5 separate regions of the Homo sapiens genome follow, and all the other regions are linked to region 3. Evidence: fine-mapped expression QTL. A gene starts in region 3. Each other region holds a variant in brackets. All regions are shown on one strand. Distances are from middle to middle.

Evidence for each region. PIP is the estimated chance that this variant, and not a neighbour inherited with it, causes the effect.
Region 1: its variant is fine-mapped to the expression of RAPGEF1 in pancreas (GTEx, PIP above 0.99).
Region 2: its variant is fine-mapped to the expression of RAPGEF1 in whole blood (TOPMed, PIP above 0.99).
Region 4: its variant is fine-mapped to the expression of RAPGEF1 in whole blood (TOPMed, PIP above 0.99).
Region 5: its variant is fine-mapped to the expression of RAPGEF1 in neutrophils (BLUEPRINT, PIP 0.95).

Annotation. Positions count from the first base shown.
Region 1 is chr9:131,714,948-131,721,063 of GRCh38, reverse strand. All of the region lies in intron 1 of RAPGEF1 (Rap guanine nucleotide exchange factor 1), which reads left to right. Among named protein-coding and RNA genes, the nearest start is that of RAPGEF1, 22 kb to the left of the region's middle. The variant T/G (reference allele first, on the strand shown) is at 2,868.
Region 2 is chr9:131,590,647-131,596,762 of GRCh38, reverse strand. RAPGEF1 (Rap guanine nucleotide exchange factor 1) reads left to right here. Exons shown (of 27, transcript NM_001377935.1): 17 at 390-465; 18 at 4,580-4,664. Among named protein-coding and RNA genes, the nearest start is that of PRRT1B, 48 kb to the right of the region's middle. The variant A/G (reference allele first, on the strand shown) is at 2,795.
Region 3 is chr9:131,737,389-131,743,504 of GRCh38, reverse strand. RAPGEF1 (Rap guanine nucleotide exchange factor 1) reads left to right here and starts at 3,429. Exons shown (of 27, transcript NM_001377935.1): 1 at 3,429-3,735. The coding sequence starts at 3,675. RefSeq lists silencers at 3,206-3,465, 3,616-3,665, 3,716-4,045.
Region 4 is chr9:131,694,810-131,700,925 of GRCh38, reverse strand. The region is part of intron 1 of RAPGEF1 (Rap guanine nucleotide exchange factor 1); the gene reads left to right. Among named protein-coding and RNA genes, the nearest start is that of RAPGEF1, 42 kb to the left of the region's middle. The variant G/A (reference allele first, on the strand shown) is at 2,599.
Region 5 is chr9:131,707,253-131,713,368 of GRCh38, reverse strand. The region is part of intron 1 of RAPGEF1 (Rap guanine nucleotide exchange factor 1); the gene reads left to right. Among named protein-coding and RNA genes, the nearest start is that of RAPGEF1, 30 kb to the left of the region's middle. RefSeq lists enhancers at 300-799, 800-1,301, 3,159-3,258, 3,168-3,949, 5,391-5,450. The variant G/A (reference allele first, on the strand shown) is at 3,575.

The sequences.
Region 1 (6,116 bases), 22 kb after region 3:
CCATGGGCATCTGCTACTTGGCATGTTCCAGTCACTCCTAGAAGCATCAAAATCTGGGATGGTTTGGTTCAAGAAACATAAACATGTACATATAACAACCAGATCACATTATCTTAAGGTAAAAATCACATCAAATCTCAAATTGTTATTCTTTGGAATGGATAAAAGGGATATTAGTATTTTTGTCAATTTAAGTTTTATAGAGAAAGTTGGAAAAATAATTATATAGGGACACTTGTCTTGGTTAACTTGGACAGAGATTTTTTTTTCTGTTGCTGTGGAAAAGATACAGGCATAGGATTTTTCTAAGAAGTTTCATTTTTTATGCAAGTGATATACTGTGGGAGGAGGTTAAAGGAAACAGCCAGAAAGACAGGTAAGAAGCTTGATGTTTGTGACAAATTGATAACTTGCAGCCTGTGATGTTGGCAGGTGTTGCTGACAGGGTCATCTGGGGCCAGGTGGTCGCTGTCCTGAGGACCTGCCGGGTACCCAGAATGCTGCCTGCCTGTTCGGTGGCTCTCAAACGTCAGCACCTGGAGGTTTCTGGGCTCTGGCGCCTGGTTTCTGATTCAGTAGGTCTGTGGTTGGGCTGAGAATGAGCATCTCTAGCGAGTTCCCTGGGTGACACTGCTGGTAGAGGTGGGGGGTATCTTTGGAACCACCACTCAAAGTCTGGAGAGGAATTGGAAGGGTCATAGGGACTTACCTGTAAGATAAAAGGTTGCCCTTATAATAATAATGATGATGATGATGACGTAACAAAGAATTTCTGTGCAGTAATGCCAGGAGCTGTGCTATGTGTATTTAATCCTCTCAAAAGCACTGGAAGGAGGTGACAGTGGCCTCATTTTACAGATGAGAAAACTGAGGCCCAAGGCTGGGCACGGTGGCTCACGCCTGTAATCCCAGCACTTTGGGAGGCCAAGGTGGGCGGATCACCTGAGGTCAGGAGTTTGAGACCAGCCTGGCCAACATGATGAAACCCTGTCTCTACTAAAAATACAAAAATTAGCTGGGTGTGGTGGCCCATGCCTGTAGTCCCAGCTAATCGGGAGGCTCAGGCAGGAGAATCGCTTGAACCCAGAAGGGGGAGGTTGCAGTGAGCTGAGATCGTGCCACTGTACTTCAGCCTGGGTGACAGAGTGAGACTCTTGTCTCAAAAAAAAAAAAAAAAGAAAGAAAGAAAAGAAGAAAATATAGCTGTGTGGGCAATAGTCAGATGAACTATTCCCCTAACTTTGCCCCAATTCGGTGTATGACTATGTACAAATCTTAACTCTTTCAGATCTCAAAGAAAAGCTCTGTGTCTTAGTTTCCTCCTCTGTAGAATGAGAACAGTAACAGTATCCTTCTCTTATCGTGAGGATCTAATGCAACCACGAGAGTAAAATACACAGAAAGGAGCCTGGTACTGCATGGGCTAAGTGCCTAATGAACATCAGCTTACTACTATCTCTCCGGGTGACAGAGTGAGACTGTCTCAAAAAAAAAAAAAAAAAAAAAAAAAGCCCTGAAGGGTTTATGTGACTTGTCCAGCTGGGTTGAAGAGCTAGGTTGAAGCCGCTGCCCAGTATTGAAACAAACCCTTATAAAATAGAGAAGTAGCTTAATAATAGCCCCAAAAAGACATCACAGACTGAAGACTTTTCTAGTAGTATAAGTACACGTGAACAAGAAAATGGTGACACTTCTGCTTCCAGTTCATGCTTCTTGTCAGCAGTATTGCGAGGGAAAAACAACAGTGATCTAATGAGCCCTGACAAGAGATGGCCAGAAGCTGAGCAGTTGGGAAGAAAACTCTTTGGTGAATCTCACTCTGAATGTATATTGTGCCTTGGGATATTAGCTGATTAATTTGGATGACATATTAGTCATGATAAGCAAGACATTTACAAACTAAGCATCCAGAACGTGAAAACTAAAATTTTGCCAAGCACCGTGGCATGTGCCTGTAGTTCCAGCTACTCTGGTGGCTGAGGTGGGAGGATCACTTGAACCCAGGAGTTCAAGTCCAGCCTAGGCAACATGGTGAGACCCTGTCTCACACACACACACAAAAAGCCACAACCTCTAAAATTTAAATTATATCTGAAGTCACGCAGTACTCCCATGAGTAATTTTACAGCATCAAGTGTACGTGCTCTGTAAAGGGTTTCATCTCAGCCTTCTGTTTTGGGCTCTTCTGTCTCCTGAATTGCCATTTGGGAACAGGCAGCCTAGTCCCGTGGCACTAAGCCAGCTAGCTAAACACTGGTCCTTCTCAAATGCATGTTTCCAGCCCCTCTTTAGGACATTATGCACCTGAACCAGAACTCTTGGTTCTCCCCTTCACTCTCTGCCTGGTAACTCACCTTGGGTTCCCCTATCACAGTAAATAATGCCATTTTTGATCCGATTGTTCAGGCTTAGAAATCTTGGTTTGGATGAGAAAACAATGAGGGTGTCCTTGCCTCCTCTCTCCCAGCGCACATCCAGTCCCTCGGTAAACCCCTGCGATTTACTCCAATAAATCCTGACTGGTCCTTCTTAGTACCTCCTCTGCTGACCCCTTACTCCAGGCCACCGCCGTTTCTCCCTGGACTGCCCCATGCCTTCCTAACCGGCTTCTTGGTTTCTTCTCCCAACTCACAGCCATTCATTCTGCATTTCACAGCCAGAGTGTGAACTGGATCACATGGATCCTCTTTATGATTGCCTGGGGCTTCCCCACACATGTGAAGCGATCCGAGGTCCTCGACGTGGCCTGTGTGCGCCCTGGACTCTGGCCCTTAACTCACTCCCTGACACCCCTCTCCCCGTCACTGTGTCCCAGCCACACTGGCTTTTGTGCTCTTCTTCCAGGTGTTCCTTTCCCTCAGAGCCTT[T/G]GCACTTGCCGTTCTCTTACTGGAACATTCATTCCCCAGATATTGTAGGGCACCTGCTGAGAAGCCATGGACAAGAGCCACGGTTTAAAGGCTGCTGGTGCCACCGTTTGCTGATCATGTGATCTTGGGAAAAGTTGCTCACCCATCTCCTTTTAAAAATCAGTTTCTCATTGATAAGATGGATCCTGCGGTAGGGTTTTGGTGAGTTCATGCTGGGGAGTACTCGATTGGAAGAACTGGGCAAACATGAGTTCCTCTTCCTGTGTCCTTTGCTCCCTATCCCTAGCTGCCTCACATCTTTGTTCAGATGCCACCCAGAGAGGTCAGCCCTAACCACTGGGCCCAGAATAACAGATAGGGTGCGCATCACTTTCTGTCCCTCATCCCCCGCTCTTTTTCCCCCTTTAAATGTAGCCTTTTTTTTTTTTTTTTGAGACAGTCTCACTCTGTTGCACAGGCTGGAGTGCAGTGGTGCAGTCTTGGCTCACTGCAACCTCTTGGGTTCAAGCGATTCTCCTGCCTCAGCCTCCCCGGTAGCTGGGATTACAGGCATGCACCACCATGCCTCGCTAATATCTTGTGTTTTTAATAGAGACAGGGACCATGTTGCCAAGACTGATCTTGAACTCCTGAGCTCAGGCAATCTGCCTGCCTTGGCCTCCCAGAGTGCTAGGATTACAGGTGTGAGCCACCGCGCCTGGCCTATTTGCTTCTTTTTTATGATATTTTCCCTCATTGGGAGGTAAGCTCCCTGTCGGCTGCTATTTCACCAGAGCCCAGAATGGTGCCTGGCACATAGCTGACGCTCACTAATTTTTGTTCAGTGGATAGTGAGTACCCATTGTGTATGGACTCCACACCTCTTAAGGGAGACAGGTGCATTTTTACAAGCTTGAGGAGCACAGCCAGAGTGCAGGCTGTGACCGTGTTCATCCTCATGCAGCTCAGTGCAGAGGGCCATCAGCAGTGAGTGGCTCTGTCAAGTTTATCTGGAGGCGGGGAGTTGTAAAGGGCAGAGGCATCACAGCCTGGAGGCTGAGGTCAGCGGGCTGGCCAGGAGAGGGGCTGGAGTCTTCCCCAGTGCGGGCATTACCCCTTCCAATACTGCCATGGTCCAAGTGAAGCAGAGGCTGTGGGACCCGAGGCTGTGGGACCCTCAACACTGATCTTTGAGAGTCCACTGGATGTTGGCTGTGAGGTTTCCTTTGACTCGCTGGAGAGGAGGGACAGGAGCTACAGTGCAGGCAGGCAGGTGCACGGCTATGCACAGTGTCCAGTCGCCGTGTGAGGAAGTGGGAGATGAAGGTGGGAAAGGTAATTTGGGGCCAGACTCCAAAAGGCCTTGAATGCCAATCCACGTACTTAGGACTTCTACCTTTAGTATTACAGGAAGCATCGAGGGGTTTTTATTATTTTATTTTTTTGAGACAGGGTCTGCCTCTGTCACCCGGGCTGGAGTGCAATGGCGCGATCTTGGCTCACTGCAACCTCTGCCTCGCAGGCTCAAGCCATTCTCTCACCTCAGCCCCCCGAGTAGCTGTGACTACAGACACACATAACACAATGCTTAGCTAATTATGTTTTTCCTTTTTTTGTAGAGACAGGGTTTTGCCATGTTGCCCAGGCAGGTCTCAAACGCCTGGGCTCAAGTAATCAACCTACCTCTGCCTCCCAAAGTGCTGGGATTACAGGCATGAGCCATAGTGCCTGGCCACATCAGGGGTTTAAGAAGCATTCTCCTTACATATTTAGACTTTCCACCAAGTCTTCCAAATTTCTCCCTTTCCCATACTGAGGGCTACGTTTAGTTCCTGGCCAAGTCCTGACTTTGTAAAGAACAACAAGTAAACAGCTTCTTCAGAAGGCTGGATGCTGAGCCCTGATTGCCCTTCAGTGAACCAGCCTCATCCATGAAGCTTCTTGAAAAGCCAGAAACTGTATCATTGGGGGGGTCCTTGAAATCTGAAGCAAGGGACAGGTTCTGAGCCCCTGTGTTTTGCAGATTAGGTTGCACAAGAAAGATGGGCTGGTGACTTTGCAGTTCATTTCCGTAGATTGTCCTTCTAGGCCTGCCTGGATAGAAGCAGCCTCGTGTGGGATCCAGCAGCAGTGGCCAGTGGGATGGGAGCCAGCATATGTAGTTGTTGACACATCCCCTGCAGACGTGGGTCGGCGGGCTAGCTGTGGGAGAGCACTGCAATGGGAGTCAGTGACTTGGGGCCTCTAGCCTCCTGTGAAAGGTCTTTTTTCTCTGGACCTCAGTTTCTCCATTTTATTGTAATGAGTTGGGCTAGATCAGTAGTTCTTAACCTCTTTTTTTTTTTTTTTTTTTTGAGAGGGAGTCTCGCTCTGTCACCAGGCTGGAGTGCAGTGGTGCAATCTCCACTCACTGCAACCTCCACCTCCCGGGTTCAAGTGATTCTTCTGCCTCAGCCTCCCGAGTAGCTTGGGAGTACAGGTGCTCACCACCATGCTCAGGTAATTTTTGTATTTTCAGTAGAGATGGGGTTTCACCATCTTGGCCAGGATGGTCTCTATCTCCTGACCTTGTGATCTGCCCACCTTGGCCTCCCAAAGTGCTGGGATCCTAAGTACAGACGTGAGCCACCGTGCCCGGCCATTCTTAACCTCTTGAAACTCCTTAAGACTTTGGTGAAAGCCATAGACCTCTCTTCCCAGAAGAATGAACACGTGGTTTGCCGGCACCTTAGGAACCCCCAAAGCCCATGAGACAAAGCCCTGGATCTATAAGGCCCTGTCCCATCTGACCCCCGGCCTTCCCCTGGGCACATACCTCCAGCTACACAGGTCTTTCATACACACTGCCCCTTTGCCTGGTCCAGCTCTGCTCATCCTTCAAGTCTCACCCTTCCCTGACTTCCAGCTTAGATTAGGTCGCCCTGCTAGACATGCGTCCCCCACCCTGAATTTAGCACTGATCACCGGGATAACTAAGTGATTCTTCGTGCATGTTATCCGACCCTCCCCAAGCTCCGTGTTGGTATTTGTTGAGTAAATCTCTGAGGCCCCTCCAGCTATGACATTCTGAGACTGATCTATAAGTTTGCAGATGTGTCATAAGAGAGTCCCTGAGCTTGTATTTCCTATGACATTCGACACGTGGTGGCCTTTGCCTTCGATGATTTCCTCCAGGCCTGGACAGGAAAGTTACTTCAAAGCAGTCTCGGCCAGACTCGGTGGCTCATGCCTATAATTCCAGCACTTTGGGAGGCTGAGGCTCGAGGATCA
Region 2 (6,116 bases), 150 kb after region 3:
TGGGGACTGTCTTGCCCCCAGGGGGTCCTACCTCACCTCTGACTTGTGGTTTGGTGAGCAAGGAAGGATGGAAGGTGCTATGTCCCCTGGCCCAAGTTGTGTGCTCAAAACAGTGGCATGCCCTGGTGCCTTGGTGCCGGGGCAGCTCCCAGGCCATCCAGCTCCCAGACACAGTCCAGTTTGTGCCTGTCACCAAGCACAAGGTGAGTCTGGAGGGCACCCCTGGCTTCGCAGCGCAGCCACACTGCTCCTGGGCCGAGGAGCACAGAAGGAGAGGGGACTTGGGGTTGCAGGGCATTTTGTCATCTCATTCCTGCCTGTTTCTTCCTAAACTGATTCTCTGAAGGGCATACTCTGCCTCATACCTTCCTTGGCTGTGTTCATTACAGGGTGATGACGGGCCGGACGTCCGCGGAGGATCTGGGGACATCTTACTGGTCCATGCTACTGAGACTGACAGGAAAGGTAGGGTGTCAGTGAGCTCACTAGATTGGGGCTGGTCCTGCCCCGGGTGCCACTCGGCCTCCCACCGCTATCCTGTCCCCTCCTGGCAGCCACAGCCCTGAGCAGGTCTGATCAGCAGTCCTGGTGCGCCTGAGTCAGAGCAGGGAGAGCCCACCTTGGAAGACAAGTAGATCATGTTCAACTCCAGGCGTGCGTGGCATCTGTCCTCCGCTGGTACAAGGTAGTGACCCCAGGGCCTCCAGGGTCCTTGAGGGGCTCAGCGCATACTAAGCGCACCACAGACAGCGCCTTGAGTGATGGCATGTCACCCAGTAGTACTAAACTTAAGATAACATGCAGGTACCTTTTGATTCCTTTCCTGACTGCTGAGTCACTCTATTGTTGCAGACCATTAGACCGGACTTCACTCACATACTCCACGAGGAAATTCTTGAAGGTTTGTTCTGTCCAGGAACCTTCAATTCTGTAGCAGTGGCCTCAGTTTCACAGCACACAGCTGCCCCACCCTACCACGCATTCAGTGTGCTGATTGAGAGGGCTGGAAAAGCAGGGACCGTCCCCTAATCCCTAAAACGTCTTGTTGGGTGGACTCTGCTAGCAAAGTCATTCCCAGTCATGCTCTGGAAAGGAGGTGCTAGTGACCTGATGGGGCATGGCCACAGCACCCTTCACTGCCTGCCCTCAAGGGGCCAGCACCACCTGGCCGGCCAGTCTCTCCACACGCTGCTTCTCTTTTTACGTTTAAAAAAATGATTTAAAAGATGATGTCAGAGCAATGGTGAAGTAAATTGTGGAGGGAATGAAAACACCCCCACCTTGAAATCCTAGCCCAACCCGTTTCATTTCTGTAAGGGACTCTGTCCCTGTGTTTCCTCAGCACGTTTCCCAAAACATGTGACCCAGAGTGACTCGGGGAATTTCTGAATTATGGAAGTAGTACTAAAAAATATTTACATTGCAGAAAATTAGAGAAAAAGAAGAGATGGCTCCCACAAACTCACCGCAGCCACTGCTCCGCCCTCCCCTTCACTGTTCCCTCACCCTTTGTTTGTTCTGACCAGGGCAGGGCCCAGACCTGGCGATGCTGCATCCTAGCCCCAGCTGTGCCATGACAGGCTCAGAGGGCCCCTGGGCAGTCCCCGGGCTTCTCGGCCTGAGCCGACTCCACTTGTTGAAGGGGTGAACGGTGCCTGTTGTTGTGTGGATTACGTGAGGGAGTGTGAAACCTGCCCCGCATGTCAGCGGTGCTGGGGGCGTGATCAGCAGCATCCTGAGCGCCGAGTGCAGCCCTTGCTTGGCTTCTCTGCAGTGAATCCCCCTCCCTGCCTGACATAGGGGGCTCCATACTCAGCCAGGCATGGGAGCGACTTTCATTTCCTTTTTGTCCACAGCGAGGGGCTGAAATGGGAGCTGGCTTCAGACCTCGGCTCCAAAGGGTGAACTCCACTGTCCTGTCGGGTACAGCCAGCTGTGGCCAAGGCTGGAGGGGTCCCTGAGACAGGACAGCCAAGAGGCTTCTGGCTTTTGCTGGCTGGACCTGCTGAGAGGACGCTCCGTGCCGGTGGGAGCTTTGCCTGATTTTACTAGCAGAAGGGTTGGAGGCTCCCCAGAACCAAAGTTTTACGTAGGAAGTATTACTGAGGCAGAAGCCATGGCTCCACTGGGAGGGTGAAGCACCCTGTGGCAGGTAACAAAGCAAGCTCCTTGGGCAGGTGCATCCTGCAAGCCAGAGACTGCACCAGCATCACGAGCAGCTGGGAGCCCCGTGGCTCAGGCCCGTGGAGCCCAGCCTGCCAAGCAGGGCTTGGCAGGGAGAGGCCGTGTGGGGGTGCTTTGTGGTTGCACGGCTCTGCTCTCAGGTGTCAGGACCTGCATGGGAGAAGGTCAGGTCAGCCTTGGCCTCAGGCCTCAGCTTAGATCCTGTCTATCCCTTGACAACTGTGTGCCAAGCCTGTCACTTAGCCCCGGAGCTTCCGATTCCTTAGGAGGAAAATGAGGGACAATTTCGGGGCCTTTTAGGGCTGTCTCAAAGACCAGGTGAGCCAGGGCGCACAGAGTGCTCAGGACCGCATCGAGAGTCCTGTGATCTCTAGAGGGGTGGCACAGCACTGCCCGTCCCAGAAGCCAGGCGCTGTCCCATCTGCCATAATCCAGGGCACAGCAGATGGGGGAGGGCTCTGGAATTGGGCAGACATGGGCGCCGACCCCGCCACATTGCTTGCGGGTGGTGTGGCCTCGTGCCTGGGCTCCTCCTCTCTCGGTAGGGTAACAGGACTCTGTCCTTGTGGGATTGCTCTGGGCATTGAAGGATGTGGCATATGTTCAAGGC[A/G]TGGCCCAGTGCTCACCAGCGAGTCCCACGAAGTTGTCATGGCTACTGGCAATGATGCACCCGCAAAGGCCAGTTGACTTGGGCCCCTTCTTCCAGAAGCAGGTATGGGTCTATGCTGGTGCCATCTCTGCTTCCTTCCCCAAACTCTTTGAACAAAAATCCAAGCTTGACAGTGAACTGGGTGGGTGTGGGGGCCGAGGAATGAGCCTGAGCACAGTGCGGATGGGCCCTGCTGTGATTCCCAGCCCGGAGCCTCCTTCACCTGCCAGCCCCACCCCACGCAGCCCCCAGTGCAAGAGCAGGCGTGGGTTTTCCTCTCGTTTGATGCAAGAGGGGATGGGGCAAGGGTGGGGGCAGGAGCCAAGCCAGCATGACTCAGCTGGAGATGTGGGTTCCTCGAGATTCCTCTACCCAGCAGCTCGGGAATGAGGGAGAAGGTGGGAGCAGGTGGTCTATGTCCAGAGCACAAGATTTAAGCAGTGCGTGTTTGCACCCAGCCTCACAGTGAGAAGCACAGCTGCGGAGCCTCCTTGGGCCTCACACCTCAGCAGGCACGGGGGGTGGCTGCAGGGAGTGAGTCTGGCCACCCGTTGGCTCAGGCAGTGTCCTACATTTTAAAATTCCACTTCATTCTGTAATATCAGAGACAGCACAGTTGAGAAGGTGTCACCACAGCAAATAAATAGGGCTGTTGTAATTCTGGAAAGTCTGGGAGTCCCTGACTGGTACCAGCCCCCTCTAAGAGGAGGCAGGCATGGAGAGGTGAGGGGTAAGCTGGAGCTGCCAGCCCACACCTGCCCAGTGGCTGGCACCATGCCTCTCCTTGGTACCCGGCCCAAGCCGTGCCTCTTCAGCCTATCCCTTAGGACCCAAAACGTGGAATTTCCCCGGATTTTTCTGATTGGACCCTACCATCTAAAAGTACTGACCAGGCACGGTGGCTCACGCCTGTAATCCCAGCACTTTGGGAGGCCAAGCTGAGTGAATCACTTGAGGCCAAGAGTTTGAGACTAGCCTGGCCAACATGGTGAAACCTTGTCTGTATTAAAATCAGCCAGGCGTAGTGGCGCGTGCCTGTGGTCCCAGCTACTCGGGAGGCTTGAGGCAGGAGAATCACTTGAACCCAGGAGGCAGAGGTGGCAGTGAACCAAGATCGCACCACTGCACTCCAGCCTGAGTGATAGAGTGAGACCCTGTCTCGAAAATAATAATCATAATAAAAATTTAAAAATAAAAGTAAAGCCTAGGGTTTCATTTCAGGATCCTGCTGACGGGTTTGAACAGACGATTTTCTTTGTTCCCATGATGGCTGAGACCCTCTGAAGCATAAAGCCTTAGGACAGGCAGAGCCTCTCAGAGTCTAATCCAGGGCTGGCTCCTACCTGGAACAGGCATGCCACCGGGTTTTGATGCCTAGGGCAGGCGTCACTCGTCAGCCTAAGTGCCCTTTTCCGCTGGGACCAGAGTTGGCCTCAGCTCCCACAGCACGGTTCTCCAGGCAGCACCATCATCGGTAGAAAGTGCCCATGAGATAAAACCCTTTCCTGTTTCCCCTCTCTGATCTGCCGTTTCCTTTGAGAGATGGACAGAGAGGACGTGTGACTTCTCTGGGACATGCAGGCGGAGACACCAGAGGGGGTTCCCAAGCCCTCGGCTCCCTCGCCCATCCCACTCCCCGTGCCATCTCCCCTGCCTCTCTCAGAGCAAGGACTCAAATCCACCCTGGCTACCACCCCCCAGCACTCTGCACCCAGACAAGCAGTTTGCATTGTTTTTTCCCTCTAGATTTGGTGTTGTACTGCGAGGCATTCCTGACCACCTACAGGACCTTCATCTCCCCAGAGGAGCTCATCAAGAAGCTGCAGTACAGATATCCTTTCCTTCCTGACCCAGGGCCCCTGCACCATGGGCATTTTGGAGAGAGAGGGACCCTCTTGCCCTTCAGTCCTCGTGGGGGAAGCCGAGCAGCATATTGGGTGGCAGTGTGATTGAAGTAGGGACACAGGAGCCCCATGGACCGAGGTTCCCACCTCTACCCTCCCGCATTCCAGCTTTGAGCTCAGGCAAGTTCCTCATCTCTAAAAGGGCCGAGTGAAATGATGTGAAGAGGCTGGAACATAGTCTGGGAATGTGTGTCTGGTGGCAGTTGTGGTCATTGGATGATTCTAAAAACGAATTAGACATGCCCCAGACTGGGAGGGGTAAGTGTGCCGGTCCTGCAGACGCCTCTGAGAGACCCTCATGGTCGGCTCCGGCAGCTTCTCAGAGCTGAGCCCCAGGGCGTTGGGCACGAAGGATACCAAGACCCAAATAGACAGCTCAGGGGTCAGCACAGTCACCTTCCCTGGAGCGGACCCTGCGACTGCCACATCCACAACTGGAATGGGCTCCTGTCCCCAGATCTACCCCATGGGCCCACCCTCAGTAAATGTCACCCTCTGCAGTAGTGGCTGAGGAGGACCCCAGGGGTTTGGAAGGACCCACTTGTGTGACCCATTGCCTCTTCAAGTCCAAACCTGCCCATCCTAAGAGGCTGACCTGCAGCTGCTGCTCTAGGAGGGTAGCCTGGGTCAGCTGCTCCTCAGCCACCTCTTTGCACATAGCCCACGGCTGCCATCTGCTGGGCAGCCACCACCACCTGGGGTAGGAAGTCCTGAGTCCACCCGCGCCCCCGCTCCTTCCTGTGTGCCCTGAGCCTTCACTGCTCCACTCAGGGCCTCCTGCAGACCTCCTGGCCTCCTATTCTCCCCTCGTGTTGACCTTTAGAATCCCTGATCTATCAAGACAGACGTGGACATCCTCCATTGGCGGAGCCTCGGGTCCCCGGCAAGTTCTGTTACTCAGAGCACCTGCTCACAGGCCTGACTCAGTGAATGGCTGTCACTCACACGTGTCAAGGACTTGCTGGTCAGGCGAGATGTGCTTTACACCTGTGCTTTCACCTAGCCCTAGCTCTATGACCATTTTTTAATATGTGTGTGTGGGTGTGTATAAAATTACCATATTATACATGGGGCCACTGCTCTATAACTCCCTATTGTGTAATTGAGGAAACCGAGGCCCAGAGACATGAAGGACCTGACCCATGTGGCTGCTTGGTGGGAGAGCAGCCACACGCTGCTTGCCCCCTGCTGCCTGCGCCCAGGCTCTCAGCCTCTGCCTGGCTCAGCCATCATGGAAATATTGCAGCATCAAGGTCTGGGCCTGGTTGGCTGGCGACCCCTGTGCTGTGGGCCAAGACACAGTCCCTGGTACGTTGCTCTGTCCTGAGCCCCATGACTTGGAAGGTCGTGGATCACTAGAGAGCAGGCAGGAGGGTGTC
Region 3 (6,116 bases):
ACATAGAGGACCAATGGCCTTGTTCCAGAGCCTGGGTTAGCTGCATTTGGACCTAATTGTACACCTGGTTTACTAATTATGATCTTCAAAAAATGCCCTTCTTGCTGTAAGCAATAGCAGAGCTAGGTTTCTGAGAGTGAAATCAAGTTTCCTAATCAGTACAGGAGGATGGCCCTGTTGGGGCGTGTCAGGGAAGCATTCTCCATAGAAGTGACAGTGAAACTAAGAAGCAAAAGATGACTGGGACCAGCCAAGTGGAGAGGAGGGGAGGGAACATTCTAGACAGCAGGAGCAGCTCATGAGAAGGTTCCAAGTCAGCCAGAACTGGGCTTTGGGAATCCGTTTGCTTCATTACCTTGTGTGTGTTCTACTATAGTTATAAACATCTTTGATGAATAGCCTTTATTAAGTAAGTTCTGTGACCCTGATTTACCATAATGTCCATTTGCAAAGTACTTTGTTGTTTGCAAATCTTTTGTCATTGGATATGTCATAATTTATTAAATATATTTGTGTTCTCACAAACCCCTGACTGCACCTAGTATCCATGCAGTCTAGTTTTCTACTTTTCAACCAGGATTTTGGATTTAAAATATCGGCTCTTCTCAGCTCAGAAGCCTAGAAGGGTTGGGGGCAGCATTGAGTGTGTTTTGGGGTTGGGCCTGGGACCAGGGGCCAGTTTTGCCTGGTAAGGCATCTGCCAAGAGGGCTGAACAGGGCCACCCTGGATCAGAGCATCCATTCATCAGGTGGAAGAGGGAAATGAATTTGTCAATCTTTGGATTTGCCTTTGACCTCTAGAGGGCTGCAACTGATGAAATGATGATGGGAAATTTGGCTGCCATCTATGACCATCTCCTTTTTTTTTTTTTTAAAGAGGGAGTCTCGCTCTGTCACCCAGGCTGGAGTGCAGTGGCGCGATCTTGGCTCCCTGCAACCTCTGCCTCCCAGGTTCAAGTGATTCTCGTGCCTCAGCCTCCTGAGTAGCTGGGACTACCAGCGCGCACCACCACGCCCGGCTATTTTTTGTATTTTTAGTAGAGATGGGGTTTCACCATGTTGGCCAGGCTGGTCTCGAACTCCTGAACTCAGGTGATCTACCCACCTCGGCCTCCCAAAGTGCTGGGATTACAGGTGTGAGCCACCACACCCGGCCTGACTAGCTCTTAGTTGTGGAATCGGTGACCCTTTAGACTGTCCAGGGAGATGGGAATAAGAATCTCTCACAACATTAGCAGTTTTTCCTCCTCCCTGCACCTCCCCCAAATCCTGTCCCCATCACTAGGTTATTTAATTTACTTATTTTGGGGGAAACAGGAGGGAAAACTAGCCCAGGTGGTGCGTGCTACTTCTTTGTATTCCATCTTAGACTAACAACAGGAAGCAGGCAGCAGAATTGCCCCACATTGGAACATCACTTGCGTTACTAATTTGTTGTTATTTACTACTTGTATTATAGGATTTAACTTTGACTTCCCAGCTAAGTTGTGAACTCTTTGGAGGGAAGCACCAATTGTGCCCACTTTTGTAGGGCCCACAGAACCCGAAATAGTGCTTAGACTTAGCAGATCCTTTGATTCTTAAATGACTTTTTTTTTCCTTTTTTTTTTTTTTTTTTTTAGCCAGGGTCTTCCTCTGTCACTCAGGCTGGAGTGCAGTGGTGCAATCATGACTCCCTGAAACCTCTGCCTCCAGGGCTCAAGTGATTCTCCCTCATCAGCCTCTCAAGTAACTGGGACTACAGGCAGGTGCCGCCGTGCCTGGCTAATTTTTGTATTTTTAGTAGAGACGGAGTTTCACACATTGCCCAGGCTGGTCTCGAACCCCTGGGCTCAAGTCATCCACCCACCTCAGCCTCCCAAAGTGCTGTGATTGCAGCCGTGAGCCACTGTGCCCAACCACGACTTTTTTTTTTTTTTTGAGACGGAGTCTCGCTCTGGAGCCACCAGGCTGGAGTACAGTGGCATGATCTCGGTTCACTGCAACCTCCATGTCCTGGGTTCAAGAGATTCTCCTGCCTCAGCCTCCCAAGTAGCTGGGACTACAGGCGTGTGCCACCATGCCCACCTAATTTTTGTATTTTTAGTAGAGATGGGGTTTCACCATGTTGGCCAGGATGGTCTCAATCTCTTGACCTCGTGATCCACCTGCCTCGGCCTCCCAAAGTGCTGGGATTACAGGCGTGAGCCACCGTGCCCAGCCACGACTTTTAATGAACTCATTTCCACACTAGAAAAGTTCCACAGCTGAGCCCCAGGGTGCCCTTCTGGATGTCAAATAAGCAGGGCAGGCAGGGTGTGCTGTGTCCCTGAGGGAGTTGGGCCCAGGCCAGCATGGAGGCTCTAGGCCTCAGGGGACATTTAGGCCTGAGTAGGGCCAACCCCAGCCCGGGACAGGTGGCTCTCGCTGGCAGGGTGACTGAGTCCCACATGCAGGGCTGGGGTGGAGAATGAATCCTCCGCCTTGGCATAGACCTTGGGCCAGCAGAGGGCTTTCATGCCAGAGTGGACTCATTCCCCGGCTGGAGCCTCTGGGCTGGCAGGAGGTGCTATGAGGCCACTCCCAGGCCCTGGTGTGGGGTCTCCAATTAAGAAGGGGGTGCGGGCAGGGTGCAGTGGTTCACACCTGTAATCCCAGCACTTTGGGAGGCCAAGGTGGGTGGATCATGAGGTCAGAAGATCGAGACCAGCCTGGCCAACATGGCGAAACCCCGTTTCTACTAAAAATACAAAAATTAGCTGGGCATGGTGGCATGTGCCTGTAATCCCAGCTACTCAGGAGGCTGAGGCAGGAGAATTGCTTGAACCCGGCAGGCAGAGGTTGCAGTGAGTCGAGATCGCGCCACTGCTCTCCAGCCTGGCGACAAAGTGAGACTCGGTCTCAAAAACAAAAAACAAAACAAAAAAGGGGGTGCTGCATCTCTGGTTTGGGGGAGGTCAGGACAGGCTCCCAGCCAGCAGAGCTTGTTGAGTCCTGGTGAGAGTGAGTTCTAGGCCCTGGTGTGGAGCCTCTGGCCCACAGGGGATGCTGGGTCCGGGATGATGCTAGGGTGGGGTGGGCGTCAGTTCCACGTCCTGGGGTGGAAAATCTGACCCAGGAGGGTTCTCTGTGTCTCTGGTGAGGGGGCAGGCCAGGCTCTTGGGCAACCGAGGACCCTGGGTTGGAGCTGTCAGTCCCAGGTCTGGAGCTGGTGACTCTGGTCCCACAGCAGAGGAATGCGGAGTCCCAGGCGGGGTCGGCCCCACACCCCAGGCCCCAGGCCCCGGCGTGGGGACTCCGGCTCGGCAGGGGGCGCTGCGTCTCGCGCGTCGCGCGGGAGGCTCGGGCGGCTCCGGGCCCACAGGGGGCGCTGTGGCGGCGCGGCGGGCGCCCGGCAGGTGGCGCTGTGGCCGTGGCCGCGGCCGAGGCCCGGCGGGCGGGCGGGCGGCGTCGCTGCGCTGCGGCCGGCTCGCGGGCCGGGGGAGCGGCGGCGGGCGCGCGGGAGGCGGAGCGGCGGCGGCGGGCGCGGCGGGAGCGGCTGGGCCCGGGCGGGCTGGAGCGCGGTCGCCGAGCGCAGGGCCGCGGCCGCGCGGAGCCCGCCATGCCGGCGCGGGTCTGAGGCGTGGCGAGCCAGGGCCGAGGCGAGCGGCGGGCGCGCCGCCCCTGTCGCCCCGCGGCGGCCCGGCCCGGGCCCGATGAGCGGCGGCCTCGGCCTCCGGCGCAGCCCGGAAATGTCCGGCAAGATCGAGAAAGCAGGTGAGGCGCGGGCGTGGGGCGGCTCCCTCCGGCCGGGCCCGGCCCTGGGGCTCCGCCGCTCCCCGGGCCGAGCGCGGGTCGCCCGGGATGTGCGGCCCTCCGTGCGCCGGGGCGGGGTGAAGCCACCGAGGCCTCGCCGGGGCGCCTGGCAGCTTCTCCTCCAGGCCCATTGCCTGCCGGGCGCGGGGGGAAGCGGCCGCTGCGGGGGCGCCAGGGGCCGGGCCGGGCGGGGCCCCTGCAACCCGGGGCCGGGCGCGCTAGCCGCTCCGCGGTCCCCGGGAACTTCCGAAAATGGCTCGAGCCCCAAGCAGGGGAAGAACAGCCCGGGCCGCGTGCTGCTGCGGCTGCAGCGATCGGTGCCCGGCCTGGGCTCGGCGCTAGGAGGGTGAACCCAGCTGAGCTGTAAAATGTGTCATTTCTAACGAGCTTCGAGTTTAACGAGAAGCGTCCACTTCGGTTGCTTCAAAGGAAGCAGGCTGGATGAGTGGGGGTATTTTGAGGAGGTAGTCAAGTTTCCCCTCCCCACCCCGATCAAGCTCAGCTCTGCAAGGAGGGCAGGTGGGGGACCGGTGGGTTGGAGTAGATGGTAAATCTTGATGCAGACCTCGTCTCTTTGTGTGTTCCTAGAAATCTGGGGGAGTTACCTTCCGAGTCCCTGGGTTTGCCTGTCCTGGAAATAGAGTCTCCAAAGATTCAATGACTGTCGAGCCTGTGGGGCCCCAGGCTTTATTAGCCTGCAGCACCTTGCAGGGCAAATGCGAATTCTTGGGTCTAAGGTGAAGTGGGCGGGTGCTCCTGGGCTCCTGTACTGGGAGCATGCCCTGTGGTCATAACCCCGGTAGCAGGTTAGCTTGGCGGCTGAATGAGGGAAAGCAGATTTTTAGGGAGCTGCAAAGGAGGTCTGTGGCTTTGATTGTGGAAGTTGCTTATGTTTCCTGGGTTGAATCTGGGATACTTCTGTGGGGTGCACCCCTGCAGCGGACCCACAAGGCAATATGACTTTTGCAGGCTGTGGTTGAAGCACAGAAGGACATTTTTGTAGGCTTTATTGAGGGTTTACTATATATCTAACTCTTAGCACCTAAAATGCATTGCTTCTTAAATTTTTGAAGCTAGTCTGTGGGAAAGAATATGGTCCCAGTTTTACAGGCTCAGAGAGGTTCAGTGAGTTCCGGCTGTCCAGACAGCAAGAGGGCGGCAGGCCCCTAGTATATTCATTCCTGGCCCTCTGACCAGAAGCCAGGGTGCTTTTCTCAGGGGCAGGGCGCTTGGGTTCAGGTGCCATTTCTTGAGTATTTTTCTCACTGAATTTGAGCCCCCACAGCCTTGCCGAGTGACCATGAGTCGCCATCCTGTACACCTGCTGCTCCAGAAATAACTTGGGTTCATCTGTGCAGCATTTCTCAGGAACTTCTTGTATAGTGTCTTGTCAGAACGGTACTGTTGGGAAACTTGGATAATTTATTTTAAAAAGAACATTCACTGAGTTCTTTTATAAGAACTTTATAATATATAAGATTATATTATATCTTTTTATATCTAATATAAGATTATATTATGTTTTATATCTTTATAATATAAGAATATTCTATGTTCATTGTCAAAACTTGGAAATCACAGAAAAGTAAAATGAACCGGATTGGAAATCATCTGTCAGCCAGGTACAGTGGCTCACGCCTGTAATCCCTGCATTTTGGAAGGCCAAGGCAGGAGGATCACTTGAGCCCAGGAGTTTGAAACAAGCCTGGGCAAAATGGCGAGACCTCATTGCTACTTTAAAAAAAATTTTTTTTTTTTTTTTTGAGACGGAGTCTTGCTCTGTTGCCCAGGCTGGAGTGCAGTGGTGCGATCTCGGCTCACTGCAAGCTCCGCCTCCTCCTGGGTTCACGCCATTCTCCTGCCTCAGCCTCCCGAGTAGCTGGGACTGCAGGCGCCTGCCACCACGCCTGGCAAATTTTTTTGTATTTTTAGTAGAGACAGGGTTTCACCGTGTTAGCCAATATGGTCTCGATCTCCTGACCTCGTGATCCGCCCACCTCGGCCTCCCAAAGTGTTGGGATTACATGCGTGAGCCACCGCGCTGGGCCTCTTTTTTTAAAAAAAGGAAAAAGTTGCCTGTCATCCCATGAGCTGCCCAAACCGCTGGGAATGAAATGACTCTTCATTTGAGTTCTCTGCTATTTGGGAGAAAGACCTGAGGCCAGTTCATTTCAGCATAGTTTGTCCTTGGGCCTTTTCTGGGCACCGCCTTCTGCTAGGGGGTTGTAGATGAAAGTGCCTGCTCCCAGAGAAGCTTGTCTAACCTAGCACAGTTTCTAAGCTACCCAGGCTGCCAGACCGAGCGACCGTGCTGCCATGGACACAGGTGAGAGAGGGGTGTC
Region 4 (6,116 bases), 43 kb after region 3:
ACTATTATGTAGATACCCATAAAACGATTTAAAGTGAAATCATTTAAAAATATGAAAACCATTCTTCACTTGCAGGCTACGAACAAGCAGCCTCCTGTTTGACTGGGGTTGCTCAGCGAGCCTTCTGGCTTCTCCGGCACACACACATTCAGGTCTCCATCTATGCAAATGGAGACCTCCTTCTTCTTCTCACCACTGTAATAAGGAGAAAACAGACAGTGGAAGGTTTGTAGAACCTCATGATTGACTATAGAGGCTTTCAGCATTTTTCCTTTACTATTAAATGGGACACTGTACTAAAAAAAATTCTATTGTTTCTATATTTGTTCATTTATTGATTGGATGTTCATTCATCCAACAAATGTTTATTGAACAGGTCCTGTGTCTCCACTGTTCCAGGCACGGGGGATACCTAATGAGGAAAATAAGACATCTCTGCCCTCTGGAGTTTTTAGTTTACATATGAACAAGTATAATATGTAGGCTTTTGGATGACAGGTATCATATAGAGGAGCCAGGGAAGGGGACAGGATGGACAGGGGAAGAGGGTTGTTAGTTTTACATGTGATGGAAAGGGAGAGTGATCAGAAATAAGGAGCAGAATCCTGTGTGTTGCAGATGTCTGGGCAGGCGCGCTCCGGAAAAGGAAGAGGTGGCGCAGAGGCCCTGACCTGGGAATGTGTGACTAGGGCGGAGGCTGGAGACCCATGGCAGATGAAGCCAGGCCTTGAGATGACTGTAAGGACTTGGAAGGGAGAGCCAGTGGGATTTACTGAGGGGTTGAGTATGGGGTGAAAGAGAGAAAGAGTAGTCTAGGACGACCCCAGTGGTTTTCTCCTGAGCATCGGAAGGTTGACTTTCGAAGCAGGAGAGCTTCAGTGGCACAGATTGTGGGGGATGATTGGGGCTGTGTGGGTACAGAGTGAGTTTGAGGTGCCTGTCAGAGAGCTACAAGGAGGTGGCCATTAGGCCATTAAAATCTGGAGTATAAAAATCTGGAGTTCAGAAAAGAAGTGTAGGCTTTTTTGAGAGTTGTTGACATAAAGATGGTGTTTAAAGCTATGAGACTGGGTGAGATACCAGCAAGTAAGTCAGAGAAGAGCAGGGGCCAAAGCCTGAGCCCCAGAGCACTCCAGCATTAGGAGGTGGAGGAGATGAGGGAGCACCAGCAGAAACCTCGAAAGACCTTCCAGGAAGGTAGGGGGAAAGCAGGAGACTGGTGTTCAGAAGCCAACTGCAGAAAGTGTTCCTGAGGAGGAGGCAGAGAGGGGGCTTCGGTGACACATGATGCTGACTGGGTCAAATCCCTTGAGGACCAAGACTTGGCCTTGGCATTCAGTAACATAGTGGTCACTGGAGACCTTGACAAGAGGTGTCAGTGGGGCCAGGCGCAGTGCCTCATGCCTGTAATCCCAGCACTTTGGGAGGCCGAGGCGGGCGGATCACCTAAGGTCGGGAGTTTGAGACCAGCTTGACCAACATGGAGAAACCCTGTCTTTAGTAAAAATACAAAATTAGCCAGGCATGGTGGCACATGCCTGTAATCCCTGCTATTCAGGAGGCTGAGGCAGGAGAATCACTTGAACCTGGGAAGCAGAGGTTGCAGTGAGCCAAGATCACGCCATTGCACTCCAGCCTGGGCAACAAGAGCAAAACTGCACCTCAGAAAAAAAAAAAAAAAAAAAAGTGTCAGTGGAGTGTTGGGTGTGAAAGTGTCAAAGAATGAGCAGAGGAGAATTGGCCACAGGGAGCATGGGCGTTCTTGGAGTTTTGCTGAAAGCGGGAGTGAAGACACAAGGTGGTAGTTGTTAAGGGTATTGCGGTCAAGGGAAAGTTTTTTCATAAAGGGTGAAATAATGGCAAGGTTGAATGCTGATGGGAATGACCTGGTAGAGATGGAAACATCGCTCAAGACCAGGAGAATTGCCGGACGAGAGAGAAGTCCTGATTATCAGCTGTGGTGCATTGAGTATTTACAGTCCTTGCTGACAAATCACCCCGCTATTTAGGGAGCTTAAATAACAACTGGGCACCTAGTTTACACTTCTGCAGCTGGCAGTTCAGGCTGGGCTGCTGGGCTCCTGGTCTTGCCTAGGGTTCCTCAAGTGTCTACAATCAGCTGCTGGGAGGGCTTATCCCTGGGCCTCCAGCAGGCTAGCCCAGGGTCCCTCCCGTAGTGGGGTTGCTCACCTGGTCGGGGAAGGGGGGCAGCCCTGAGGCCCCAGGTCAGAAGCCGCACAGTTACCTCTACTTTATTTCATTGGCTAAAGCAGGCCACAGGCCAGCCCAGATTCAAGGGGAAGGGAGAGAGAGACCTGCCCCCTCCTTCTACCCGCCCTTCTAACAGGAGAGTGCAAAGTCATCTTGCCAAGCTGTGGGTATGAGGAGCAGGGAATCGTTTGGCCATTACTGCAAACAATTTGTCACAGCTGTCTGTGAGCTAAGCATGTTGCTTTCAATCATCACAAGAGTTCTTTGGGGTAGGTAGTATGATTGTGATTTTACAGATGAGAAAACCAGGTCACTGAGCATCCAGTAACTTGCTCAAGATCATGCAGCTAGTAAGTGGCAGAATTGGGACCTAAACTGGTCTCTGAC[G/A]TCAAAGCCCCTTTCTTCCCTATTTTCCCTTCCTGCAAGTGTCTGTTTACAAGGGCAGACTAGAGGGCCCCTCCTCCCTTTGCTTGTTAGGCATGGGAATAATATTTTTGTGGATGATGATTATCTCATAATCAGGGTGGACTGAGGGAGGTGATCATCTTGTTGTGGCTTGCATGTTTACTGTGCGGGGATTGGACAGCTGTATTTATGAGAATCCCTTTGAGGTCACAGTGGTGTGTTATTGACACAGATTCATGTCTCTGCTCTCAGCTGGTCCCTCAGTGCCCTTTGACAGTCTTTGCCCTTGTCCTTGGTCAGCTGACTCTCCTGTCCAGATAGTCACACATGTTCCCCTTCACGCCCCACTTTGTTCCAGGCCTCTGACTTCCTCTGTCTGCCTTTATCCTGGCCCCTCTCTTTCTGGCCCTGACACAGGTACACTCAGCCTCTAGTCCAGGTTCCCTCTGCCCAGGTCCTCTTCCCTCCAGAACTTGTCATCATCAACTGTCTTTTCAACCAACTGGACTTCAAGCTTTCCAAGAGCAGAATCCAAAATGTGGGAAAATTTGAATTAGCATCAGTGAACTTTGTCTCTGACACTGGCTGTATAGTCTTGAGCAAGTCCTGTACCCTCAGGTGCAAGAATCTGGGAAGAGTGGACACTTTGAGCCATCTCCAAGGCCATTCAGGGAGAGTGAGATCTCTTTATGTCCGCCTAGGAAACCCGTGGCCTAGAGCTCAGTTCTGTTCTGTTGCAGTGGCTGCAGTGTGTCCTGGGTGTATACCTGACAGCCCTGCATTTTGCTGCAAGAGCTGCAGCCTTCTCTCTGCCCTCTCCTAATTCAAGCGTCAAAACCTTGTTGGCCCCAGAGCTAGAGCCGCTGCAAGCCACTTCGCTCATTTAGGAAAGCAGGAGGCAGGTCCTGTGCTGAGTCTGCAATCTCAGCAAAGACCTCAGTGAAAATGTTTTCAAGCTCTCTTTGGATAGAGGGAGCAGAGCAGTGAGTAATTAGGTTCAATCACCCATTTCAAGTCTCTGTGACCTTGCTTACATAGGGAGCCCGGAGCTGGGCCCTTCTTGGAGTCCCTGGGTTGGGATCCCAGCCAGCTGAGTGTGAGGAAGGGAGGGAGCGAGAAGGGATGGAGGAGAAGCCTGGGCCAGCAGAGGGCTGCTGTCTCTGCTGCGCTTTCAGCAAGCTCATCTCAGGCATGACATTCAGGATGCAGAGTTGCTCTTTATTTTTTTATGTAGTTTGCTAAGAGAAAATAGCCCCGCTACTTATGTATCAGTGTAATCCAGGGGAAATTACTTAATTTCCGTCAGCCTCAATTTGCTCATCTGTAAAATGAAGGCAACTAATTACACCTGCCTTAGCATATGAGGCGTGAATACGAGAATGCTTGACAATACTTGGCATAGAGTTAGCCCTCGATAAATTTCAGCTGTTAATGTTATTATAGCACCTTCACATGTTGTTGTGTTTATATTGTAAATCGTTGGTTAAAGATATTTTTATTGTCATGATAGCTCCATACTTTCAAGATGCGTCTTTGTAGTATTTCGTATCCATTTAGTCATTCATTCACTGAGTTTGTATTTATCAGACACCTACTTATGGACAAGGAACTGTTGATTATTATCTTTCTGTTCAGGTTATGATGAGCTGTTCATTTCTTAGTGCTTGCCACTATAATATTCAGAGCTACAGTTCGCTGAGCACCTGTTTCAATAGAGTTGCTCACTTGGGAGATAGATTCTAAAGTCCGAGCATAAAGAGAACATGGCACAGAGGAAGAATTAGCCTTGAAAGATCCCTTAAATCATCTGTAAAGTACAGTGTACATCGGAGGTCATCAGACTTTTTCTATAAAGACCATATAGTAAATATTTTAAGCTTTGCAGGCCACCTGTGGTCTCTGTCACATATGCTGCTTTATTTTCCTTTTTAAGGAAAGCCCTTTAAGATGTAAAAACCTTTTGTTAGCTCTGGGCCCTTAAAAAATAGGTCTTTGTCTACATGAGCAGACTGTGGTATGTCTTCTCCAGGATGGTCCGGGGATCCCCGCCTCCTGGTATTCACACTCAGGTGTCATCCCCTCCCTCTCTGGATCAGGGCTGGTCCTATGACCAGTAGAATACAGCAGAAGTCATACAAGATGTTGTAGCTTCCGCCAGCCTGTCTCTCTTGGATCCCCTGCTCTGGGGGGAGACCAGCTGTCCTGTGGTGAGGCGAGGTCACAGGTGAGGGTCTGTGGCTCTGGCCAGCAGCCCACAGGGAAGGGAAGCAGCTCTTCCAGCCCCAGTCAGGCCTCAGGTGACTGCAGCTTCATGAGACATCTTCCTGAGCCAGAACTATCCAGCTTGTGTCAGCCACTCTGCCTTTCAGGTCATTATAAAATCTGCAGCAGGGAACGGGGTGCGGTGAGGAGTTCTAAAGAATGCCTGCTTGCCTGCAGAGTTACATTGATTTTTTTATTAAATGTTTGCTGGTTACACTTGTCAACAAATCTGTTTATGGAGAGGATGAGATGGGAACATGTCATTCATGGGTGTTCTTATTATCATGCATTTCTTGGAGTTTCCATCATTCCAACCAGAGAGAGAACATTTACCATTCAGCAGATGGCTGCATATGGACAGTTAAGTTTCCTGAGGGAGTGATGCACCTCTTCTGGGTGAGCCAGACATTGAGGTACACCACTCAGTCCTGGCAGCAGCCCCCACTAAGGTTAGGATTGGCAGCTAAACGTCTAGCTTGATCCAACTCGCTCCTGATGCCCCTGCTTCCACTGATACCCAGTGTGGCCTCTGCTGTAACACAGCAGTGCGCTTGCAATCTGGGGAGAGCTTTTGCTTCCACACTGAATAGCTTCAGATGGCTTTGCTCTTTTTCGGTTGTGCCAAGAGGCCCTTCTACACTAAATGGCTCATCCATGGGTAGCTACCATTGACCTCTATCGTGTGGCCTGCTTTGGGAAGACAAGCCGGGTCAATTGGTTCTGCCTCAGGAATTTGAAACCGGACACAGGGAAGCATTCTAATCATTGGCGGGGATTTGAGCTAAAGAATCTACAGAATTGGAACCAGGCAGTCCCTGTGTGCTTCCGAATTATGAGAGAGTGGTAACTCAGAAGAAGCACGTTCATGCATTTATCTAATGAACATTGATTAGACATGTGCTGCATGCCAGGCATTGTTTTAGCCACTTGGGTTACAGATATCCTCATGAAACCTATATTGCTAGTAGGTGAAAATACACAATAGACAGTCAACATTATCCGTTAGTGAGTTGCATGTAAAGAAAGTGCGTGAACAATGAGAACACATGGACACAGGAAGGGGAACATCACACACGGGGGCCTGTTGTGGGTGGGGGGAGGGGGAAGGGATAGCATTAGGAGATATACCTAATGTTAAATGACGAGTTAATGGGTGCAGCACACCAACATGGCACATGTATACAAATGTAACTAACCTGCACGTTGTGCACATGTACCCTAAAACTTAAAGTATAAAA
Region 5 (6,116 bases), 30 kb after region 3:
CCCCTCTCTGAGGAATCTGTGAAATGGGGAAGGGAGTCGCTGGAGCAGATGATCTTGTGGATCTCCTTGGGTTTTACAGAGATTTGAGGCTTGGAGTAGTCATACCTGAAGGAGTGACCTTGATAACACATGGCCAGGTCGGGTCTGATTGAAGGCAGTTCGTACAGCCACAGCGTTCTCGGCGTATTTGTGCAAGGCTTGGAAACTCATCACAGTGGCTGTGCAGTCAGCCTTCTGCTTCTGGTAACAGTTCACTTTTGATTCTTCCCATTTGTGAAGAATCAGAAAAATTTTCTGTTGTCTCCCTGAAATGTGGACTGGAGATGGGTCGCTTGCCCATCTTGGATTGCAAGCATATTGGTCTTTGGGGATGGCTCTATGTTTTTTTGTTTGTTTGCTTAGTCTGGGACACTGCAGAGGGGATGACTGTAAAAGACGCTTTCTGAGCTGGGGATTAGAGAGGAATTCTTAAGATTAGGTTATTCTGTTGCTCTCCCCCTCCCCCTACCCCTGAACAGTTCACATTGGAGTTATTTTGGGGGAGCCATGATTGAGAAGGGTTGGACCACAGGGTCCTCATTTCAAAGCTGTTCTCTCAAGGAAAAATGTCCAGTTCATTCTAAAGGTTCATCAGTATATTAGTTGTTTGGAACCTAGGATGCGTTTTTTCATGGAAACACAGTTACAAATGTGTTGGCCCCCAGCTGAGAAACGAGAGAGGGCACACCTGAGCCCAGGTTCTGTAACTGTGACCCATTGTTGTCTGTGTGCACAGGCGCCAGGAGGAGCTGCCCCAGACACGGCTCCTGACTTCAGGGGCTTCGCACTCCTGATAGGGAAGAAATTCCAGGGCCCAGAGTGGCCTGAGCTAAGGAGTGGGGAAGTGGAGGAAACAGCGCCCCAGCCGCCCATACCCTCTGACTCTTGCTAGGAGAGGAGAGGTTGTTTATGGATTAGAAACTCTGGTTAATGCATTCCAGGGGGTGGGGACAATCAGTGTGTGTATGTTGGGGATAATTCTCATTGGTTTATTCTGTCACCTATCCACTCATTTATTCAACAGAGAGTTATTAAGCACCTACTGTGTGCCAGGTATTCTGCTGTGCAACTGTTAGTTTTCACTGGACCCCTCTCGCGTGGTGGGGGTTCCCTGTGCTTTATTCCAGTTTGTGGCTGCAGTTTAATCTGGGGAGGAGCTTGCGGGCTCTGTGAGGGAAACAGGGAGCCTCTGCACCCATGCTCTTTCCTGCCACCTCATTGGAGACGGTGCGACAGACACATGCCATTTGCTTTGCCAAGTTTGGACTCTCAGGCCGTGATTTTGCAAAAATGATCTCTGTATTGGTAGATCAATTATGAGGCCTTAAGATCTTGTAGAGATTTGGATTTTGGTTTTTGTCTGTTTTGCATAAATTGGAAAGATTATTTCCCCTTCCTTCAGAAAGGAAGGGCCTGGTTTAACACAGTGGCCCACTGCGCCCAGAAACTTAACAGAGCATTAAGTGCCTCTTAAACTTGGTCTCTCTGGTTCTGTGGGTCTTTTTTGGAATGTTGTCCCAAATATTACTCCGGTTCTATACTTGCTCCCATTTTGTACCATCCAACTCTGTAAAATAAATTTACTTTGGTGCTTTTGACTAAATTGACCGAAGCCAGATATCTGCCACCTAAGCTAATGTATTTTCCGTCTACAATTATAAAAGTGATGAAGGGCTGGGCGTGGTGGCTCACGCCTGTAATCCCAGCACTTTGGGAGGCCGAGGCGGGCGGATCACTTGAGGTGAGGAGTTTGAGACCAGCCTGGCCAACGTGGCAGATCCCCCATCTCGACTAAAAATACACAAATTAGCTGGGTGTGGTGGCGCACACCTGTAATCCAGCTATTCAGGAGGCTGAGGCAAGAGAATCACTTGAGCTTAGGAAGCAGAGGTTGCAGTGAGCTGAGATTGCACCACTGCACTCCTGCCTGGGTGACAGAGTGAGACTCTGTCTCAAAAAAAAAAAAAAGGTGATAATAGGCACAGTGCAGTGGCTCACACCTGTAATCCCAGGACTTTGGGAGGCTGAGGCAGGAGGTTCACTTGAGACCAGGAGTTTGAGACCAGCCTGAGCAACATAGGGAGACCCTGTCTCTACAAAAAAATTTAAAAATTAGCCAGGCGAGGTGGCATGCACCTGTAGTCCTAGCTTCTTTGGAGGCTGAGGGAGGAGGATTGCTTGGGCCAGGGAGGTTGAGGTTGCAGTGAGCCATGATTGCACCACTGCACGCCAGCCTGGGTGACACAGCAAGACCCTGACTCCAAAAAAAAAAAAAAAGTTAAATATTCACCAGGGACCTCCTGAGTGTCAGGCAGCATGCTACGTACTTCACAAATGTTCTCTTTTGTTTGATTCTTATTACAGCTGAGGAGGTGAGACTGGAATTATGCCCAGTTAACAGATAAGGAAACTGAGGCTGCTGTGCTCAACTGGCAAAGCCAAGGGGAAGAGCTAGTATTTGCACCCAGGCTGGAGTGCAGTGGTGTGATCTCGGCTTACTGCAGCCTCCACCTCCCAGGTTCAAGTGATTCTCCTGCCTCAGCCTCCCAAGTAGCTGGGATTACAGCTTCGTCCCACCACGCCCGGCTAATTTTTGTATTGTTAGTAGCGACAGGGTTTCACCATGTTGGCCAGTCTGGTTTTGAACTCCTGGCCTGAAGTGATCCACACACCTCAGCCTCCCAGAGTGCTGGGATTACAGGCGTGAGCCACCTCGCCCGGCTCAGAGCCTGCATTCTTACCCATATTATGCTGTGGGGATTCTTTAGGGGCTTTTATAACCTCAAACTCTGGGACTGAAATAAATGAAATCTTTTCATCCACCTCGACATTGTCTTCCTTTTTACCAAGAATATGTGATTGATTTCATTCCCTTCTTTTCTTCTAGAAAACCCTTTGTTCAGAATTTAGGTAGCGTAGCACTTTCTCCAGCAAAATTGTTCCCAAAGTGCAGTGGGAGTTTGGAGCTTGGGGTTATAAATTCTTAGCTGTATTTGTCCCCAAGGTGTTTTCTTCTTTGGAGACTGAGGTGTAGCAGTGTTTTGATGTTTTGTTTCGTTTTGTGTTTCCCTTGGAAACACAGCATTAGTGAAATCAGCTTGTTTTCTCTGACAGTACTTGTTACGTGGTGCACACTGGTCTGAGCGTGGGACTCTGAAATAGAAGGCGTGGCATAAGGGTCTGTATGAAAATGTTTCTCCTGGCATGCCCCAGAATGGTTCATTTATGACTTTCAGCATTTTGATCACCTGATTCCCCATTTCTCCTGCGGAGAAAAGTGGTATTAAAAGTATTTGGACATAAAATTCATCTTGCAAGCCGCTGTTGTGCTGATGAGTAATAAAGTGTCAAAAGGATGCTGAGGAAAGAGCTTCTTAATATAGACCATGCCTGAGAGGCACCGGTAGGGCGATAACAAGCCCTTTCTTCTGATTTCCTCCCTGGGGCCAAAGGGATTTTGAAAGGCAGAAGGCAAAGACTTGAGAATGAGATTCCTCAGGCTTCCCTTGTGAGGCTGCCTGGGTTCTGCCGCTGG[G/A]TGGTTTGGGATGTCCAAGAGATATCCCCTTTCAGCCAGTGACTCGGTCCTCAGTTGCTGCTCCGGAAAGACGCTGGGGCTGGGAAGGGCCCTGTGTCCTCTGGCTTTAAAATGGGCAATGCTATTGAAAAACAGAAGCCCTTGAAACGAAGTCATCTGTACCCCTGGAAACAAGGTAAGAAAGCCCTGGGCTTCCTTTCCAGGAAGAAGCAAGGAGGCAGTTTTCTCTGAGAGACTGGCCCAGCAGCAGAGCTGAAGTGCCTGGGGAATCACCTTCCAGAGCAGAAAGCACAGGTAGTCCAACATGATTTCAAGAAAATTCACAATTCTCCTGAGGAATAAGATGATTCCTCTCTCAATATGATGGCTTGGTTTGGCTGAGAGTTTAGTTCAGCTCGAGATGTTTCATTTGGTGCAGTATGTGTCTGTTGAAAATTTTTATTTTTTTTGAAATGGAGTCTCGTTCTGTCGCCCAGGCTGGAATGCAGTGGCATGATCTCAGCTCGCTGCAACCTCCGCCTCCCAGGTTCAAGCAATTCTCTGCCTCAGCCTCCTGAGTTGCTAGGATTACAGGCACCCGCCACCACGCCCAGCTGATTTTTGTATTTTTAGTACAGATGGAGTTTCACCATCTTGGCCAGGCTGGTCTTGAACTCCTGACCTCATGACCCACCTGTCTCAGCTTCCCAAAGTGCTGGGATTATAGGTGTGAGCCACCGCGCCTGGCTGAACATTTTTACTTTTTTAGAAATGTTCCAAGTCAGCCAGGCACAGGGGCTCACGCCTGTAATCCCAGCACTTTGGGAGGCCAAGGTAGGCGGATCACTTGAGGTCAAGAGTTCGAGTCCAGCCTGGCCAACCTGGCGAAACCCCGTCTCTACTAATAATACAAAAATTAGCCAGGCCTGGTGGTGGGCACCTGTATTTCCAGCTACAGGCATAAGGCTGAGACAGGAGAATCGCTTAAACCCAGAATGTGGAGGTTACAGTAGCCGAGATTGCGCCACTGCACTCCAGCCTGGGTGACAGAGTGAAACTGTCTCAAAAAAAAAAGAAAGAAAGAAAAAGAAATATCCCAGGTCAAAGCTTTGATATCTAGGAGTTTGAGGCTTTTGTGATATTTTTTGATTTAGATAATGTTATTAACAGCTTTTAAATATATAGCACTTCCAAAAGTTCCAAAGTACTTTCAAGGTACTTTCTGTAAAATCTTTCATTTATCCATCCTGGACACCCAGGAAGTGGGACAACAGCCTCTCTTAACACCTACTCTGTCTCTCTAGGGCTTGGGGTCATGTCAGCTTGAGGAGGAGGAAGTTGGCAGGGCCACAGAGCAGTGCAGTGGTACATTTGGAGCTCAAGGACCTTTAATAGTGTCTCAGTGCAGGACAGTCTGTTGACGCACTCAGCGGCCTTTTATCACAGTTATTGACCCAGGAGACCGGCCGGCTGGCAGGCATGCCAGAGATGACATATGCGAGACTTCACCAGGTCTTTGCCTCCTCTTGCCAGAAGAAGTTGCGGTAGCATTTGATCAGTAGCAAGACAGTTTTTTCACAACTGCATATATGGGTGTGTTTATGAAAAGAAAACAAATAACTGGAAGAAAATGCATGGAAATATTAAGAGCAGTTGCTGTTTGTCAAATCATAGATCATTTTCTCTTAAAAAGAAAGTAGGTGGGATGCTAATTTACTGTCAGGTTCCAGCCCTTCTGACTTTCTGTGAGTCATTCTTTTGTCTAACATGTTACTTTGGAAAGGGTACTCCTTAGCAATCCTTGATTGGATCCAAGTTTGAACAAAACGGCTATTAAAGACATTGGGGGACAGTTCGGGAAATTTGAATATGAACTCCATGGTGGATTATAATGAGGAACTGTTGCTCATGTGATTATGTGTGAAACGGTGCTGAGTCATGTAGGAGTGTGTGCTTTTTTGAATAGTCATGCTGAAGTATTTAAGGGTGAAGAGTTATGCTATCTATAATTTACTCTCTAAAATCATAATCACTCTGTGATTTTCCCTGTATACACGTTAATAAATTTGTATGCCTTTTCTCCAATTAAAAACAATACTGTAATCCCAGCACTTTGGAAGGCCGAGGCAGGCAGATCACATGAGGCCAGGAGTTCAAGACCAGCCTGGCCAACATGATAAAACCCCATCTCTACTAAAAATACAAAAATTAGCCAGGCGTGCTGGTGCACATCTGTAATCCCAGCTACTCGGGAGGCTGAGGCACAAGAACTGCTTGAGCCCAGGAGGCGGAGGTTGTAGTGAGCTGAGGTCATGCCACTGCACTCCAGCCTGGGCAACAGAGAGAGCCTCTGTTTCAAAAAAGAAAAAATCAAAATAAAAAAACAGGTTCAGCAAAATATACTGTATAAATAAATGGGGACCTAAGATAAGCAAAATGGGATAAGTTTAACAAGTGTTAGAGTCCAGGTCATCGATATATGAGGTTTGTTATACTTTCTTTCATGTATTTTTACACATTAAAATAAAGAACCAGTTCTGACTGTGTCATACATAGTACAGTG